Linked DNA regions of Homo sapiens: region 1 is linked to region 2. The links come from fine-mapping of genetic effects on gene expression. A gene starts in region 2. The other region holds a variant in brackets. All regions are shown on one strand. Distances are between the middles of the regions.

Region 1 (8,686 bases), 30 kb before region 2:
TTCAACAAAGAGTAAGGGTCTCCTGCTAAAAGCCCTGCTTTATTCCCTTCTCAGCTCCAGGCTACTGTCAAAAATAAGTAAATAAAATACATAAACTATTTGAATAAAAGAACATATCTTTCTATTAAAAATAAATGTTATTGTAAAAACCCTAAGGAGGAATCGCCCTTTGCTTTACATTAACAGTATCTTCTCCTCTTTATTCTCTAACCTAAAATAAGACAGGAAAAAAGCACATTTTCATAATTTTGTATGGGATACGATCTTCATTGTTACATTGGTGATAATGAAAAAAGAACAAAATTAAAATAATATTTGAGGTCTACATTTCAGTAAATTTTTGATCTGGCAAATATAGTTGCAGTCTTAACATATATTGCCTTTACTATACAACACACCAGCAAACAAAAGAAGCCTATTAACTAAAAAGAGAGAGAGATTAAAAAATAATTCATTTAAATGTTTTTGATAAATCTACTTTGCCACAAGGGACAGACAAAATTAACTCTTCATTTAGAAATTTGTCAGACTTATGTTCCTGCTGTCCCACCTCACCTTCTTCTTCACTGCTTCTATTGTCTCCTTTTGCTACTGTACACTGCTGATGTAGCTAAATTGAATCAATGACAGTGTGTGGGTGAGAGAGGTTAAAAGAAAAAAGGGATAAATCAAGAAATGACAGTTGTAAGGGTGGTAATGGTAAAATCTTAGCTTAAACCAGTTGTAAAATTACAGCACAGCCTAACACATAAGAATTCATTTGTTGTACTCCAATTTCATGAACTTGGCAGAGTGGAGGTGGGCAGAAAAAGGCAGAATCTTAGTGCATACTGTTGTTGTTGATGTTTTTTAACTAATAGAAACATAGCTCATCAAAACTTGAGAAGCAATGAACACCACAGGAAAAATGAACCTATTTCCCTATATTCAAAATAATAATGCTTTACTCTTATAAAGCCCTTCTTATGAACTCCCACACCAATTCTCATACAATTTCACTAAACATAGATACATAAATAAGTCAGTTGCCACTTTCTTTTCTTTTTTCCTTTTTTTTTTTTTTTTTGGAGACAAAGTCTTGTTCTGTCACCCATGCTGGAGTGCAGTGGTATAATGATAACTCATTGTAACCTCGAACTTCTGGGCTCAAGTGATCCTCCCATCTCAGCTTCCAGAGCAGCTAGGACCACAGGCATGTACCACCGCACCCAGCTAAATCTATATACATATATTTGTAGCCATGGAATCTCGCTTTGTTGCCCAGGCTGGTCTTGAACTCCTGGCCTCAAGTGATCCTCCCACCTCAGCCTCGCAAAGCACTGGGATTACAGGTATGAGCTGCCGCACCCAGCTGATATACCAGTACTTTCAAATAAAAATATATATATATTTTTTTAATTATTATTTTTTTTGAGACAGTGAGTCTCGCTCTGTCGCCCAGGCTGAAGTGCAGTGGCACAATCTCGGCTCACTGCAACCCCCGCTTCCCGGGTTCAAGCGATTCTCCTGCCTCAGCTTCCCTAGTAGCTGAGATTACAGGCGTGCGCTACCACATCTGGCTAATTTTTTATATTTTTTATAGAGACAGGGTTTCACCATGTTGCCCAGGCTGGTCTCAAACTCCTGACCTCAAGTGATCCACCCGCCTCAGCCTCCCAAATTGCTGGGATTACAGGTGTGAGCCACCACACCCGGCCATTTTATTGTTTTACAAATGACTTTTGACCCATGGCTCAAAAGTTTAACAAAATATTCTTATTTGAAAGTAGGAATTTTTATTGACTATTTGTGAACTTAAACAGTTAATGCCACAGATCTACATTTTACAAAGAGTTTTCAACTGTACTCTAAAATTTAAAATTATATCTCTTTATAGTCTTTAAGTAGCTCAGATAATTCTAAACTCAAGTGACCCCAAAATCCTCCCCAAACTAAATCATACTAATAACAGAATAATCTACATTTTAACCTTTAATTATATCCTTCTTGTGAAACTCCTACTTTAAACTTTCATGGGACCATTCTCCCTATTTCCCCTCCTCCTCCTTCCTACTTCAATTGGAGATATCACTTATAAATCAGCCCCTGATCCTCTGCCTTGCTTTATATACAAGGAATTCATCTACCACCTGCACAAATTTGTATCTGTCCAAATCCAACTTTAACTTAGTGAGATACATTTGTTTAGCAACCAAACTAACCCCATCCCCCCAAAAAATATTATCTAAATAGATGCCTTATCAATTAACACCTATCCTAAAACTGACAGGTTCACTTCTACTTCTTCCCTTACTTCCATATTTAATACCAAATTCGATAGATTCTTCCCTTACATCGCTGGTATTGTCCTTGCTTTTCATTTCCCCAGCCATCAACCACTCTAGGTCATTAATTCTCAAAAGTATTACTTCAGTAGCCTCTCAGCTTATCACCTAAGCTACTTCCAATCTCTTCATACTTTATCCAACATACACAAAAAGCTGCCAGAATTCACCACTTCAATTTGCCTACTCAGAAACCCACAGTGGCTCCCTACTGTTTCAAATCCAAATTCCTTGGCTAACTATTCTAGACAGTTACAGTGTAAAGAAACTTTTTAAATTTCATCACCTAAGTAACCAGATTTTTTTTTAACTTCTTAACACTCTGCCATTATCCCCTGATATACCTCTGTCTTTCAAAAGTCACCCCATTTCAATATCCTACCAGTAGTATTATGTAAGGGTTAAGGGTATGGGCTCTGGAATTTGATTTGAATCTGGCTCTACCACATAGTCTGACATTAATTTAACCTCATCTATGTAACAAGGATATTAAACCTGCTTCATAAAGTTGTTATGAAAACTAACATTAATATCCTTAAAGCACTAGGCCAATCTCAAGCACACTCTAAATGATCAATAAATGTTAGCCATTGTCAATATTATTACACAGCCACTATGATGTAAGAAGCCAATCTGATTGCTCTACCACAGGCTATGCATTTGCCTTCACTATTCTTGATTCCCTCAACCACAAACCATGAGAGATGGCATGGGCCTGAGAGAGCAGCTAGTCCAATCACATGTCCATCAGCATTTAGGTCTTGGCTCTGTTGTCTCTCTTGATATTCGACTTGGTGTCTGCTACTGAACAGTATTGTATTGAATAAAAGTGCATGGTACACAGCAAATAATCCTTTGTAAATATTTGTTGGGTAAATATGTTAAGTGCTAAAGAAATACACGGTTAGCATGTATTTTTGTCTTCTATTATAGCTAAAATATTAATCAACTATATGCATCTATAAAACTGTTTCATAAAACTGTTTCTAAACAGTACTGCAAAGCTTCAAATAACTATAGTTTGAAGTATTCAAGCCAGGAATAAAAATCTTTTACTTGGTAACTATCCTCAAATTGATCCAACTAGCAATACTGTATCGTGTGTGT[CTG/C]TGTGTGTGTGTGTGTGTGTGTGTAACAAGGTCTTGCTCTGTTGCCAGGCTGGAGTGCAGTGGTATGATCTTGGCTTACTGCAACCTCTGCCTCCTAGGATCAAGCAATCCTCCTACCTCAGCCACCTGAGTAGCTGGGACCACAGATGGATGCCACCAGGTGTGGCTAATTTTTAAAATTTTTTGCAGAGACGAGGTCTCACTATATTGCTCAGGTTGGTCTTGAACTCCTGGGCTCAAGTGATCCTCTAGCCTCAGCCTCCCAAAGTGCTGAGATTACAGGTGTGAGCTACTGCACTCAGCCTATATTGTTATCTTTCTTGCTGCGTTAGGCCTTTCTGAAGGTGAGTATTTACATTCTATCACTCTCTTATCTATCAATAATGCTTGTGTCAATGTTTCATACTTAGTGCTAAATAAGCAGTTATGAATTCCACAAATTTTCAACATAAAAATAAAGGCATCATCAAAATAATGTGTAAAAAGATAATGACGATATGCAAAACAGTAAATGAAAAGCTAAGATTTAAAAGTTGTCAAAGAATCGGCCAGGCATGGTGGCTCACGCCTGTAATCCCAGCACTTTGGGAGGCTGAGGCACACAGATCACGAGGTCAGGAGATCAAGACCATCCTGGCTAACATGGTGAAACCCTGTCTCTACTAAAAATACAAAAAATTAGCCGGGTGTGGTGGCACATGCCTGTAATCCCAGCTACTCGGAGGCAAGAGAATTGCTTGAACCCCGGAGGCAGAAGTTGCAGTGAGCCAAGATCACGCCAGTGCATTCCAGCCTGGGCGACAGAGCGAGACTCCATCTCAAAAAAAAAAAAAAGTTGTCAAAGAGCTAGGGACAGTCCTCGCCATTCTCCTCATACCTCCAACCCACCTCTACCCCCACTCAAAAACAAAAAACAAATCCATACAGAATCACAGTATATTTTTTTCCCATAGAATTTTTAAAGCTAGAAAGACCTCAATTCCCATTCCTTTATGTCCCACTGAGTCCCACATGAGAAGCTGAAACTCAGGAAGGCCAGATGATTAGCCTAAGGGTACAAGAACCAGATAAATGCAGGGCTGGGAATTAACTCCGTATTCCTAGGCAGTACTCAGATACCTAGGCAGTATTCTTTTCACTACATCATGCAGCATTTCAACTCATTTCTTCCGCATCTACTTAGTCTAGAACATAAAATTAACTATATCACATGAACTCTTCACAAAACAATTGACTATAATCACATGGTATGGTGAATACCGATATATTTTTGGCTATTTTCAAGAATGCCTGCAAGGAATAAAGGTTTCAAGTCATAAATGGACCATTTCTGTTATTATAATTACTTCTGTTCTGGAAAAAAATACTTCCCTTATCAGATATTATGACCTTTAAGATTCCCATTTTCACAAATTATTTTTCATAAACTACACATATGTATGCTCAACTACGCAGCGTCTTACCCAACAATAGCTTAAGCAAACCACATATCTCAAATAAAAATGTCATCTATTCCAGGCTCATCAGCATATGTTAGAATCTGTTCCTAAAATAGACTCATAGACTTTTGGAATGGGAAGGAACCTTGGAGATCACCTCTCATTTCACAGAGGAAAATAATACACAGCAGGGACCTGCCCAAGGTCAAAGTGTCTTCATAAGAACCCAGGTCCAGAATAGAAAGTTCTCAAAAGATTTCAGAGAGAAATGCAATATTTGGTGAAACACCTTAGCTTGCCTCCCTTTACATCTACTTTTTTTTTTTTTTGAGACAGTGTCTCTCTGTCCCCAGGCTGGAGTGCAGTGGCACGATCTCGACTCACTGCAAGCTCCGCTTCCCGGGTTAACGCCATTCTCCTGCCTCAGCCTCCCGAGTAGCTGGGACTACAGGCGCCCACCACCACGCCCGGCTAATTTTTTGTATTTTTAGTAGAGACGGGGTTTCACCGTGTTAGCCAGGATGGTCTCGATCTCCTGACCTCATGGTCCACCCGCCTCGGCCTCCCAAAATACTGGAATTACAGGCGTGAGCCACCGCGCCCGGCCTACATCTACTTCTTAAGTACAATTTCCTGCATAGGAAACTTTTGAAATTTAAGAAAAGAAAGCAAAACAAAAAACTAAGCCAACCTTTTTTTTTTCTTTTTTCTTTTCTTTTTAAGTCTACAGCCAAGTCACTGATTCTAAAAGCTTAGAAGTTAAGGTAGACCATTGCAAGAATCTTAAGAGGTAACATTTTGGGGTAAAATCCCCAAGGCTTAAGGATACAATGTAAGTAAGACACACAAATTAAGAATAGCTATAATATTCTTATCTCTGTAACAAATTACATGGAGGATAGCTCATAAGTAGGAAAACTTTGTAAACATGCAACTTTCAAGGAAGAGAATTTTAGTCATCATACCTATTAACTATACAAGAATGCCAATACATTTTGAAATTTTATCTTGGTCTCTGTGCTTAAGCTGGAAATTTTTTTTCAAAATATATATCTTAAGTCATGTAAAAAAAAAAGCAGTAACTTGAGGAAAACCTTTTATCGACCCTTAATTAAAAGAAGGCCTTAAATCAAACCTTATTAAGAGAAGTATAAGCTATATTGTCCGGTCATGTTTGAAAGAATACATGAAAACTGAACATTCCTCAAAGTTAAGGCATGAATAGGACTAAGGACATGTACGTTTTTTGTTTTTGCAATGAAAGGCACACTATGCAAGCCAATTTACCTGTAGAAATATGTTTCTTAACTCATGAGGATCCCCTCGCTTAGTTGTCTGCACCTGTAAGCAAAAAAGAAAAAAAAGCCAGTTAATGCTTCACTAGAGACCACACAATCTCTTCAGATTAGAGGTCACATGGCTAACAATCAATGCTCCTATCTTTTATCATTTAGTTTAAAACAAACTAAAAGCCCTAATTGCTGATAAGAACTGTCAAACTGGATAACTGTGACTAGAGGGCAGAAAAACAGGTGCGAATAGCCTAAGATACAGCAAAGCTATCGGACAGTGCTTCCTCTGGACTGGAAAGGGAAGGCAATGAGGATCTTTTACTTTATTCCACATCTACTAGCAACACAGTAGTAACCACCCACCTTCAAATCAAGAAGCTAACAAGAGTAGATCAACAGGAAAGTTAAATCACCCAAATTAATCACTTGGCCTAGCAGCCTTTCTCCATAAAAAGCAAACCCAACATGTAATTATCTCCGCGTCCCTCTCCCCATCCAACCTAAAATATGAGAGCTGCCACAAATACAAATACTTTCCATACCCTGCAATCTGCAACGCAAAAGCCAACCACTGCCCTCGGCCTTATTGAGGCCCCAAATTACTCAATACTTACTCCCTCCCCCACCGCAATTCACTGATACCCTAGGTATCCCCAGCTTTACTTGCCACTTCCTCCCACACCCTTTCTGATGCCCTCCAACTCCGGACTCACAATCCCATGCACCTAGGACAGGACATTACTCTTCCTTCACTGACCCGTGTTACCGTACAAGCCCCTTCAACTCACAATCCCTCCTCCTTCCCCTCCCCCAGCCGGGCATCCCCTCCTCCGGTCCAAGCCCCGCACAGCTCTCCCCGCAGCAAGCCGGAGCCCCAGGACAAGCTATCTAAGACCTAGACAATGAATAAAATGGGAAGCAGTGGGGGGCTGCAGGCAGGGCGCTCGGAATGTCTCTTATGCAATAAAAGCAGCAGCAGAGAGTTGGAGTCACCTTGACCGCCATGCTGTGCTCGGAAGCCGGGGACGAGCGAGTGAGCGAGCAGGGCCGAGCTGTCAGGGCGCGCGCGCGCCGTCTTCCCGGCCGCGCCCGCCCTCCCTCTCGCCGGCGCCGCGCGCGTCCCTATGCAAATGAACTCGGGGCGCGCCGCGTGCGGAAAGGGGCCCGGCGTCCCGGCCAGAAAGGCAGCTGGTCCAGGGCCGGCCGGCCGGGCGGAGGAGGGGGACGCGCCTCCCACGGGGAAAACAAGCGCGACCCATGGGATCCCGACGCGCCGCGTGGTTGCCACAGCTAGGTCGCCGCCAGGAAAGCCCCAGGTTTCCTAAGGCCTCTTAGTGGGTGTGGCTTTGGGCACCGACCAGCCAAAGTCGTTTTCCCCGAGGCTTAAAGGAACATTTGGGGCCTATACTGAGCAAGGTTCCGACGGATCAAAGAGCACTTCCCATTAATAACAATGAATTAATGACAACTGATGGCAAATACCGACAAAACAAGATTGGGAACCACTCACTCTAGGGAAAACCTACGTAAACATAATTTGAGAAATATGCTCCTAAATTGGCATGGGACGAATACGCTGAATTTATTTTTGCTTTGCGTGCTATTACAACGGTTTATTAGTAGACTCGCTCCACTTTCCTAATCACCCAAATCCTGTGTGCAATGAGAAAAAAAACTCTATGTGTCTTTGACAGGGCTGGCAATGAATCGCTTGCCCATACATGAACAGAAAGTAATTCTCCATTCGATTTCTAGCCCTACCTAAGAAGTAGAAGAAGCAGTAACTCTATCTTGAACCAAAACAATGTTTCTAAACCCGTCTTGCCAATATCACTGTATTAGGCTACATATTGATTCAAACATGTATGGGCATCCATTATATGCCTGACATGGTCCTGCTTGTAAAAAACGCAAATAACCTATAGCCCCCACCCTCTAGGGGCTTACAGATGGTCAATGCTTCTCCACAACCCCAATCACATGTGTATTGTGTGTATGTGTGTCTGTGTGTGTGTGTGTTGAGACTGAGTCTCGCTCTGTCGCCCAGGCTGGAGTGCAGTGGCACCATCTTGACTCACTGCAACGTCCACCTCCCAGGTTCAAGAGATTCTCTTGCCTTGGCCTCCCGAGTAGCTGGGATTACAGGCACCCGCCGCAATGCCCAGTTAATTTTTTGTATTTTTAGTAGAGACAGGGTTTCACTATGTTGGCCAGGTTTGTCTCAAACTTCTGACCTCTGGTGATCCGCCCACCTCGGCTTCCCAAAGTGCTGGGATTACAGGCGTGAGCCACCGCGCCCGACCCTGTGTATGTTTTCATTTTTAATTTTTTGAGACGGAGTCTCGCTCTATCGCCCAGGCTGGAGTGCAGTGGCGCCATCTTGGCTCACTGCAACCTCTGCCTCCTGGGTTCAAGCAATTCTCCTGCCTCAGCCTCCCAAGTAGCTGGGATTACAGGTGCACGCCACCATGCCTGGCTAATTTTGTATTTTTAGTAGCTATGGGGTTTCGCCCAAGCCACTT
Region 2 (8,686 bases):
CCCCCTAAAGGCAACTATAGTTAAGTTTGTGAGGTATGCTTTCAGATGTTTTCTGTTTATATCAAAATATATTTTTATATAAATGAAATAACATTATATTTTTTGTAATTTATTTTTTAGCCTATTGTATAGGAGATAGAACATATTAGCCAGCCCCTTGTGCTAGTAGTTTAGGCTATTTTCAACTTGCCAGTGAAAATAATACAGCATTGAACATCTTTGTTTTAGTGTATCTTTGCATTTCTGTGAAATAGTTTTGCAGTACAAATGCTTAAAAGTGGAACTGTTGTTGCCTCAAAGGATACACAAATTGAAAATTTTGTTACATTTGTAAAAATGTGTTAAAATTTCTAAATTGCCCCTCAAAAGTTACTAATTTATACACGTATGGGTAGTACATTAGAGTTGGAAAATAAAGACTGTTGGTAATTTTTGTGTATTTAGGATAGGGGTCCTCTTACAGTAGTTTTCAACATGAGCCGGTCCATTTTTATTTTCTTTCTTTCCTTTTTTTTTTTTTCTTGAGACAGACTCGCTCTGTCGCCCAGGCTGGAGTGCAATGGCGGGATCTCGGCTCACTGCAACCTCCGTCTCCCGGGCTCAAGCAATTCTCCTGCCTCAGCCTCCTGAGTAGCTGGAATTACGGGTGTATGCCACCACACCCGGTTAATTTTTGTATTTTCAGTAGAGATGGAGTTTCACCATGTTGGCCAGGCTGGTCTCGAACTCCTGACTTCATGTGATTTGCCTGCCTCGGCCTCCCAAAGTGCTGGGATCACAGACGTGAGCCACCGCGCCCAGCCTATTTTCTTTCTTGTATCCCATTTGGAAGTCATCTAGCTGGATAATGGTTTCTGGATAATTGCTCTGGGAACTGAGACTCATAACTTTATGCTCATTAGCACTACGAGCTAAAAAAATGAGCTAACTAACTACTGTTATTTGTCTGTGTAAAGGTATGCATTTTGAAATGAAGACACATTACATACATGCATTTTTCTTAAAATTGATTTCCTGCATCAATTTTCTGATGACCATATATATATATATATATTTTGAGACGGAGTCTGTCTCCCAGGCTGGAGTACAGTGGCATGATCTCGGCTCACTGCAAGCTCCGCCTCCTGGGTGCATGCCATTCTCCTGCCTCAGCCTCCCAAGTAGCTGGGACTACAGGCGCCCGCCACCACGCCTGGCTAATTTTTTGTGTTTTTAGTAGAGACGGGGTTTCACCGTGTTAGCCAGGATGCTGTCGATCTCCTAACCTCGTGATCTGCCTGCCTCGGCCTCCCAAAGTGCTGGGATTACAGGCATGAGCCACTGCGCCCGGCCCGATGACCATATTTTTTTGTGCCAAATTTTAATCCATTCTGGAGGTTTCAAAGCAAGATAGTGAAGTTTATCAGTCCATATGAACTTGAGCCTGTACCAACACATGGTTGCCAGTTCATACCTAATAGTGTAATATGGCCCTTTTCTCTGAAGAAAATGCCTTTTCCAAATCTCCCTTACTAGAATAAATGTTATCATAGTAATACCACTTCATACCTGCATAGAGTTTTAGAGTTTACAAAGGTCGTTCACAAATATTATTCCGTTTAGTTTTTACAGCAACCCAGTGTGGTGACTGGGCAGTACTATTATCTCCACTTAATAGATGCAACAAGGTTGAACAAGCATGAAGTAGTAGAACTGGGACTAGTAGGGCAGTAAACTTCCCACAAGATATGTTGTCTCTTCCATATATATATGAGGATAGCATATTCCTTTCATAGAAATTTTATTCCATGATTGTAATAGTTGCTTTCTTAAATTCTCTTTAGAACAAAGTAAAATATAAGTTAAAAAAGGAAAGAAATCCCTACAAAAAAAAAGAGAATTTTTTTCCTTTTGGGTAATTTTCACATTACCTTTCCAAAATAAGTCATTCTTTTATCTTTTAGGTAAACTGTACCAAAACATCTATTCTGTAACATTAAAAAAAAAAAATGTGAGGATGGACATGGTGGCTCACACCTATTATCCTAGCATTCCGGGAGGCCAAGCTGAGAGGATTGCTTGAGGCCAGGAGTTTGGGACCAGCCTGGGCAACATACTGAGACTCCATTTCTACAAAAAACAAAAAAATTAGCTGTGCACAATGGCACACATTTGTAGTCCTGGCTATTTGGGAGGCTGAGAGGCAGGAGGATCTTTTGAGCCCAGCAGTTGGAGGCTGGAGGCTGTAGTGAGCTATGATTGCATCATTGCAATCCAGCCTGGGTGAGAGTGAGACCCTGTCTCAAAAAAAAAAAAAAAAAAAAAAGTGAACATCTAAGACGAGGACAATATAAAACCTCAATTCTGCAAGCAAATCACATTAAATGCTAGTCATACAATATATCAGTAAGTTTCATCATATTTTTTTCCTACAACTAACCATAATATCACAGGACTAATAATCTGTGATATACCACAGTTAAAACGTAATTCTTCTTGATTTCTTACTTATAAAGATCATAATTGCTGGTCAGCAATTGATCCATAGATAAGGTGATTTTGGAAAGAAATGATAAGTCTTGCCATTTTGAAAAGAAAAGTTTTTTTTTTTTTTTGAGATGGAGTCTCGCTCTCTTGAGCAGGCTGGAGTGCAGTGGCACTATCTCAGCTCACTGCAACCTCCGCCTCCTGGGTTCAAGCGATTCTACTGCCTCAGCCTCCCAAGTAGTTGAGATTACAGGCTCATGTCACCACGCCTGGTTAATTTATTGTACTTTTTAGTAGAGACAGGGTTTTACCATGTTGGCCAGGCTGGTCTCAAACTCCTGACCTCAGGTGATCTGCCTGCCTTGGCCTCCCAAGTGCTGGGATTACAGGTGTGAGCCACCGTGCCTAGCCAAAAATGATTATTAAAGAAAAAGATTGTTTTCCTTTTTTGATCCATAATGTCATTAGTCTCATTGATTTCAGTTTTCTGTCTTAACATTATGACTGTAATTTCTTTTTTTTTTTTTGAGACGGGGTCTCGCTCTTGCCCAGGCTGGAGTGCAGTGGCGGGATCTCGGCTCACTGCAAGCTCCGCCTTCCAGGTTCACGCCATTCTCCTGCCTCAGCCTCCTGAGTAGCTGGGACTGCAGGCACCCGCTACCACGCCCGGCTACTTTTTTTGTATTTTTAGTAGAGACAGGGTTTCACCATGTTAGTCAGGATGGTCTGGATCTCCTGATCTCGTGATCCGCCCGCCTCGGCATCACAAAGTGCTGGGATTACAGGCGTGAGCCACCACGCCCGGCCTATGACTGTAATTTCTTGTGTATCATTAGGTTTCAAGAAAAAGGATCTTGAAACCTTTTCTTGGGATCACGACTGTAATCCCAGCACTTTTGGAGGCCGAGATGGGCAGATCATCTGAGGTTGGGAGTTCGAGATCAGCCTAACCAACATGGAGAAACCCCGTCTCTACAAAAATACAAAATTGCTGGGTGTGGTGGCGCATGCCTGTAATCCCAGCGACTCAGGAGGCTGAGGCAGAAGAATCGCTTGAACCCGGGAGGCGGAGGCTGTGGTGAGCTGAGATTGTGCCATTGCACTCCAGCCTGGGCAACAAGAGTGAAACTCCGTCTAAAAAAAAAAAAAAAAAAAAGAAAGAAAAAGGATCTGGGCATTCTCAGTACCTTTTCTGATCTTTATCTTCAGGAAAGCCATCTCTATATAGTTGAGCAAATAAATACTGGGCTGAGTATCTGATGAACTGCACTCTGCATAGGTTGCATACTGAGAATGAACTTGGGCAGTTTATCTTTTCTGGGCTTTGGTTTCCTCATCTCTAAAATGAGAGGGCGTGTTAGTTCTAGACCATCATCCCAAGGGTCCATTTTAGCTTTAGCGTGCATCACTGTAAAACCTGTTAACAAATATTTGTTGAGATAAGGAATTCTGGTGTATAGCCAACATTGTGGGAATATTTGTGGATACCTAAATAGTGGTTTATCCTCTGGGGAAAGCAGTTCCTACAGCTACTAAATACTAACAAGGCCTATGGCTAAAATCAGGTAGCACCTTGTGATGTAATTCAAACCACTAGGACATGTGGCATGCAAGACTACATCAGGCTACTTGAGGTATTTATTAGGTAACAATTTTTTTTTTTTTTTGAGACGGAGTCTCACTCTGTTGCCCAGGCTGGAGTGTAGTGGCGCAATCTCGGCTCACTGCAACTTTCGCCTCCAGGGTTCAAGCGATTCTCCTGCCTCAGCCTCCCGAGTAGCTGGGATTACAGGCGCCTGCCACCATGCCTGGCTAATTTTTGTATTTTTAGTAGAGACGGGGTTTCACTATGTTGGCTACACTGGTCTCGAACTCCTGAGCTCAGGCAATCTACCCGCCTCGGCCTCCCAAAGTGCTGGGATTATAGGCGTGAGCCACCGCGCCCGGCCTAGGTAACGATTTTTGCGCGCTAAACGGTTCTTAGTAACCTGCAGAGTGAAAGCAGAGTACCTAAATATCATACTGTATACGTTAAAAACAGGGGAGAAAGGAAAAAAGGTGTTAAAGTTTACAGCAAAATGAGAAACAAATGAGGAAAACAAGTGAAAGCTTCTCCCGCAACTGAAACTCAACCTCTACATTTTACCTAGGTAAAATGGTAAAATTGCCCACAGGGCTCAGGTGTTTGGATGCACTGTCCAGGCCAAGAGGAAAGATTTTCAGCCAGTCTCCAAAACATCTCAGGGACGGGTATGGAAAACAGGCGTAAAGTGTCTGTATTGATCAAATCAACCCCAGAGAAACTTTCCTAGGGCCAGAGAGCATCTCAACCGCGAAAGTCCGTTTGCGGCCTCCTTCTCCACTTCAGGCCTGCAAAGCGGCTGACGGCATTCGCAGTGGCTAGGCAACGGCCCGCGCAGACTTCTCGGCGTTAGCCCCGCCTCTTGAGGCGCTTCCGCCGCCGGGCTCCTGGACACGCCTCCTTTAATTGGCTAACGTCACGCTGGGAGTGGGCGGGGAAAATATGTCAGACTGTGCGGTCACTTCCGGCCCGGGAGCGCGCGGGTTGATTCGTCCTTCCTCAGCCGCGGGTGATCGTAGCTCGGAAATGGCGGGTAAGTTACCGGGAAAAGTTTACCAAGGGGAGGAGGCGGCCAGATCGGGGATAGAACGCCGAGACGGTGGTGACAATGCCCGCCTAGAACTTTCGGGCTGTAGCCTGGGTTCCAGAAGGCCTGCTTGGGACCGGAAGCGCGGAACTCTCAGCCCAGCAGCTCCTTGTTGGCGGCGGTCCGCGCCCCCGCCCCCAACTGCTTGGGGTTCTGCGCCTTCTGCCAGCAATCCGGCCCCTACCGAGGGCCGAAGACGCCAGGGAAAAGCGTCATGATTTGGGCTCGTAAAATGCCACATGCCTTGGGGCCTGTTTCTCTTCCCATTCCTTTTGTCCACTGCTGCTTGCTTCAGCTCTTGTACATCTGGTCCTGTTCCCGCCAGCTGATTTTAATGCTCAGATCCTCCTCCTCTTCCAGGTCTCCGTCTACCTTCCACTACAGTCAACTTCTGAGCTAGCGCATTGCTGCCTTGCCCTGCTCTGGCGCTCCCACTTGGATCTCGACTGACTTCGTAGTCGTCTCGTTAATCTGTCACACTTTAGTATTCCGAGGATCGTATTTAGATGCCCTTTGAGAAAGACTTTGTTCCTGAACTGCTCCCTTCTCTTTTAGGGTTGGACTACTATAATACAATTCTCTTGTGTACATTCTAGAGACCCTTCAAGTTACAACATTTAATAATGTATAATTGCTATTACTTTGTACGTGTATTAAGGCTGTTTTGGTGTGATTATTTTTTTCGATTACTTATCTTTTGAAGTTATGGACAGTTTCTTTTTCCTGAGACAGGGTCTCTCTGTCGCCCAGGCTGGAGTGCAGCGATCATAGTTCCGGGCAGCTTCCAACTCCTCGTAGGCTCAAGCGATCCTCTTGCCTCAGCCTCCCGAGTAGCTAGGACTACAGGCATGCGCCACAACATTCGGCTAAAAAAAAACAATTTTTTTTAACCTTTTAGAGACAGAGTCTGGCTGTATTGCCTCAGGCCGGTCTGGAACTCTTGGCCTCAAGCCATCCTCTCGCCTCAGCTTCCCAAAGTGTTGGAATGACAGGATTGAGCCACTTCGCTGGCCTTTGTTGCTTTTATCATCTCTTTACAGGGCATTCCTCATAGTCTCTCTACATTAACCATTCCATTTTTATGAATATGTGGGATAGACAAGCTGTTGTGTGAGCTCTACAGATGTTTAAAGAAGGACTTTTCTACCAGATGGAGATTGTAGGATCTTGAAGTACCACAGAAGAGGGAGGACGTACTCTAAGAATTACATCTAAATTCGAATTTTGGGCCCATCATTTAGTAGTTGGATGCCCTTCAACTAAACCTCTTTCTAAGCCTGAACTTTTGAATGTAAAATGGGGTTGATGTAATACCTACTTATAGAATTGTGCAGATTGAGCTAATATATGATTTCACAGGTTAAATTTTGTTGCTTACATTCCTCGAAGTAAATTCTGTAATCTCGGTTCTGTAGATTAGGGTCAGAGGGGTTAAGTAATGTGCTCTAGTTCCCTGAGCTTACTAGCTCAGTAAGTGTGTGAAATAGTCAGAATCCAGGAATTCTCACTCCAGACTATTAATCTGTACTGCTTCAAGTCTTTCCCATTTTCTGTGTGTGTGTTTTAACCCCTTTTTGAAGTTTATAGCACATCATTGTACCCCTTTTTATTTTTTGCTTATGGCTTTTTTCTGTCTGAATTTTTACTGATTTTTTTTTTTTTTGGAGACTGAGTCTCGCTCTGTCACCAGGCTGGAGTGCAGTGGCGCGATCTCGGCAACCTTTGCCTTCTGGATTCAAGCAATTCTGCCTCAGCCTCCGGAGTAGCTAGGACTACAGTCACGCGCCACCACGTCCAGCTAATTTTTGTATTTTTAGTGGAGATGGGGTTTCACCATGTTGGCCAGGATGATATCCGTCTCGACCTCGCGATCCCCCTGCCTCGGCCTCCCAAAGTGCTGAAATTACAGGCGTGAGCCACCGCGCCCAGCCCATTTTTACTAATCATATGCCCATTTTGTCAGGAGATTTGTTATCTTGAAAGTTTCTCTTGATAGTGATATCTTCCAATGTTATTTATTATGTATATTATTGAGTAGCCACTATGTAGTAAAACTATTGTGCCAGTAGCTCACAGTTTATGACTTTAGGCATACATGATTTTTAAATATTTAATACAGTGGAAAGATGTTTTCTTTGTGCCCCTGTTCCTCTTCCTTCTTTCTTTACCCATGGTAACTATGGTTACCAGATATTTGTGTATTCTTCTTGAGACATTCCATGCATTATCATTTCCTTATCTGAAGCACTCTGGTAGACTTTTTCCAATACTTAAAATGAAATTCTGTCATAATTATCAGAGGACATTCTCATTTTGCTTTTTACATCTTATAATGAAAAAGACGACTTAGGTATAAATCCTAGCAGGTAATTTGTATTAGTACATGTTCAGAAATGTTAGTAATCTATCATGTTAATTTTCAGGTTTATTCATTTATATTAAGTATTCCTAGTTTATAAGCCTGTATCTCAAAAGTGATTTCTTTTTCTGTTTTGTAATGAGGCATTCTTTTTTTTTTTTTTTTTTTTTGAGATGGAGTCTTGCTCTGTCGCCCAGGCTAGAGGGCAGTGGCATGATCTCGGCTCACTGCACCCTCTGCCTCCTGGGTTCAAGAGATTCTCCTGCCTCAGCCTCCCAAGTAGCTGGGATTACAGGCGCCCGTCACCGTGCCCGGCTAATTTTTGTATTTTTAGTAGAGACGGGTTTCACCATCTTGGCGAGGCTGACCTCGAACTCCTGACCTTGTGATCCACCCACCTCAGCCTCCCAGAGTGCTGGGATTACAGGCGTGAGCCACCGTGCCCAGCTGGCATTCTTAATACATTTATTTAAGAGTATGTGGAGAATGACTTGTGCTTTTATGATCTATCAGCATGTTTTAAATCATACCCCTATTCCACTTATAATAACCCTATTGCAGGTTTGACAATTTAAGTCACTTCCAAACTAAACCTTTTAAAAACCTTTTCTCTTAGGATTTGGTGCTATGGAGAAATTTTTGGTAGAATATAAGAGTGCAGTGGAGAAGAAACTGGCAGAGTACAAATGTAACACCAACACAGCAATTGAACTAAAATTAGGTATGTATGCCATTTCTAAGTGATGTTATGTACATACTGTGTGTGTATATATAATCTTTCATTTTAAATTTGAAGTAAAATTTTATGTAAGAGCAGTTATTTATGCAAATGTATGGTTTTCTGCATTTATTGAACATATTCAGATTTTATTCAGTTTTGATTTATGTCATGGAAGGTGTAGATGTTTGAAAGGTGACAGAATTTTATATAAAAAGGAAAGACGGTGGGGCAAAAAGTAATAAGTATATATAGTTTTAGCCTCTTAAAAATATTTTTTACTTTTTTGCCTGTAAGAATAATAAACAATAGCAAATATTGGTGAGGATGTGGAAAAAAACACTTGTATATTGCTGGTGGGAATGTAAAGTGATATAACTATTTTGGAAAACAGTTTGGCAATTTTCTTTTCTGTCTTTTTTATTTTCTTTCCTTCCTTCTCTTCTTTCATTTCCTCCCCTCACCCCTTTTTTT

The links. PIP is the estimated chance that this variant, and not a neighbour inherited with it, causes the effect.
Region 1: its variant is fine-mapped to the expression of HAT1 in whole blood (INTERVAL, PIP above 0.99).

Annotation. Positions count from the first base shown.
Region 1 is chr2:171,887,046-171,895,731 of GRCh38, forward strand. It overlaps SLC25A12 (solute carrier family 25 member 12), which reads right to left and starts at 7,199. Exons shown (of 18, transcript NM_003705.5): 1 at 7,158-7,199; 2 at 6,160-6,213. The coding sequence starts at 7,169. RefSeq lists enhancers at 6,845-7,411, 7,412-7,978 and a silencer at 7,122-7,441. The variant CTG/C (reference allele first, on the strand shown) is at 3,432.
Region 2 is chr2:171,917,427-171,926,112 of GRCh38, forward strand. It overlaps HAT1 (histone acetyltransferase 1), which reads left to right and starts at 5,035. Exons shown (of 11, transcript NM_003642.4): 1 at 5,035-5,081; 2 at 8,111-8,215. The coding sequence starts at 5,075. LOC105373740 (a long non-coding RNA gene) reads right to left here and starts at 4,963. Exons shown (of 3, transcript XR_923579.2): 1 at 4,613-4,963; 2 at 3,654-3,805. RefSeq lists enhancers at 4,471-5,119, 5,260-5,309.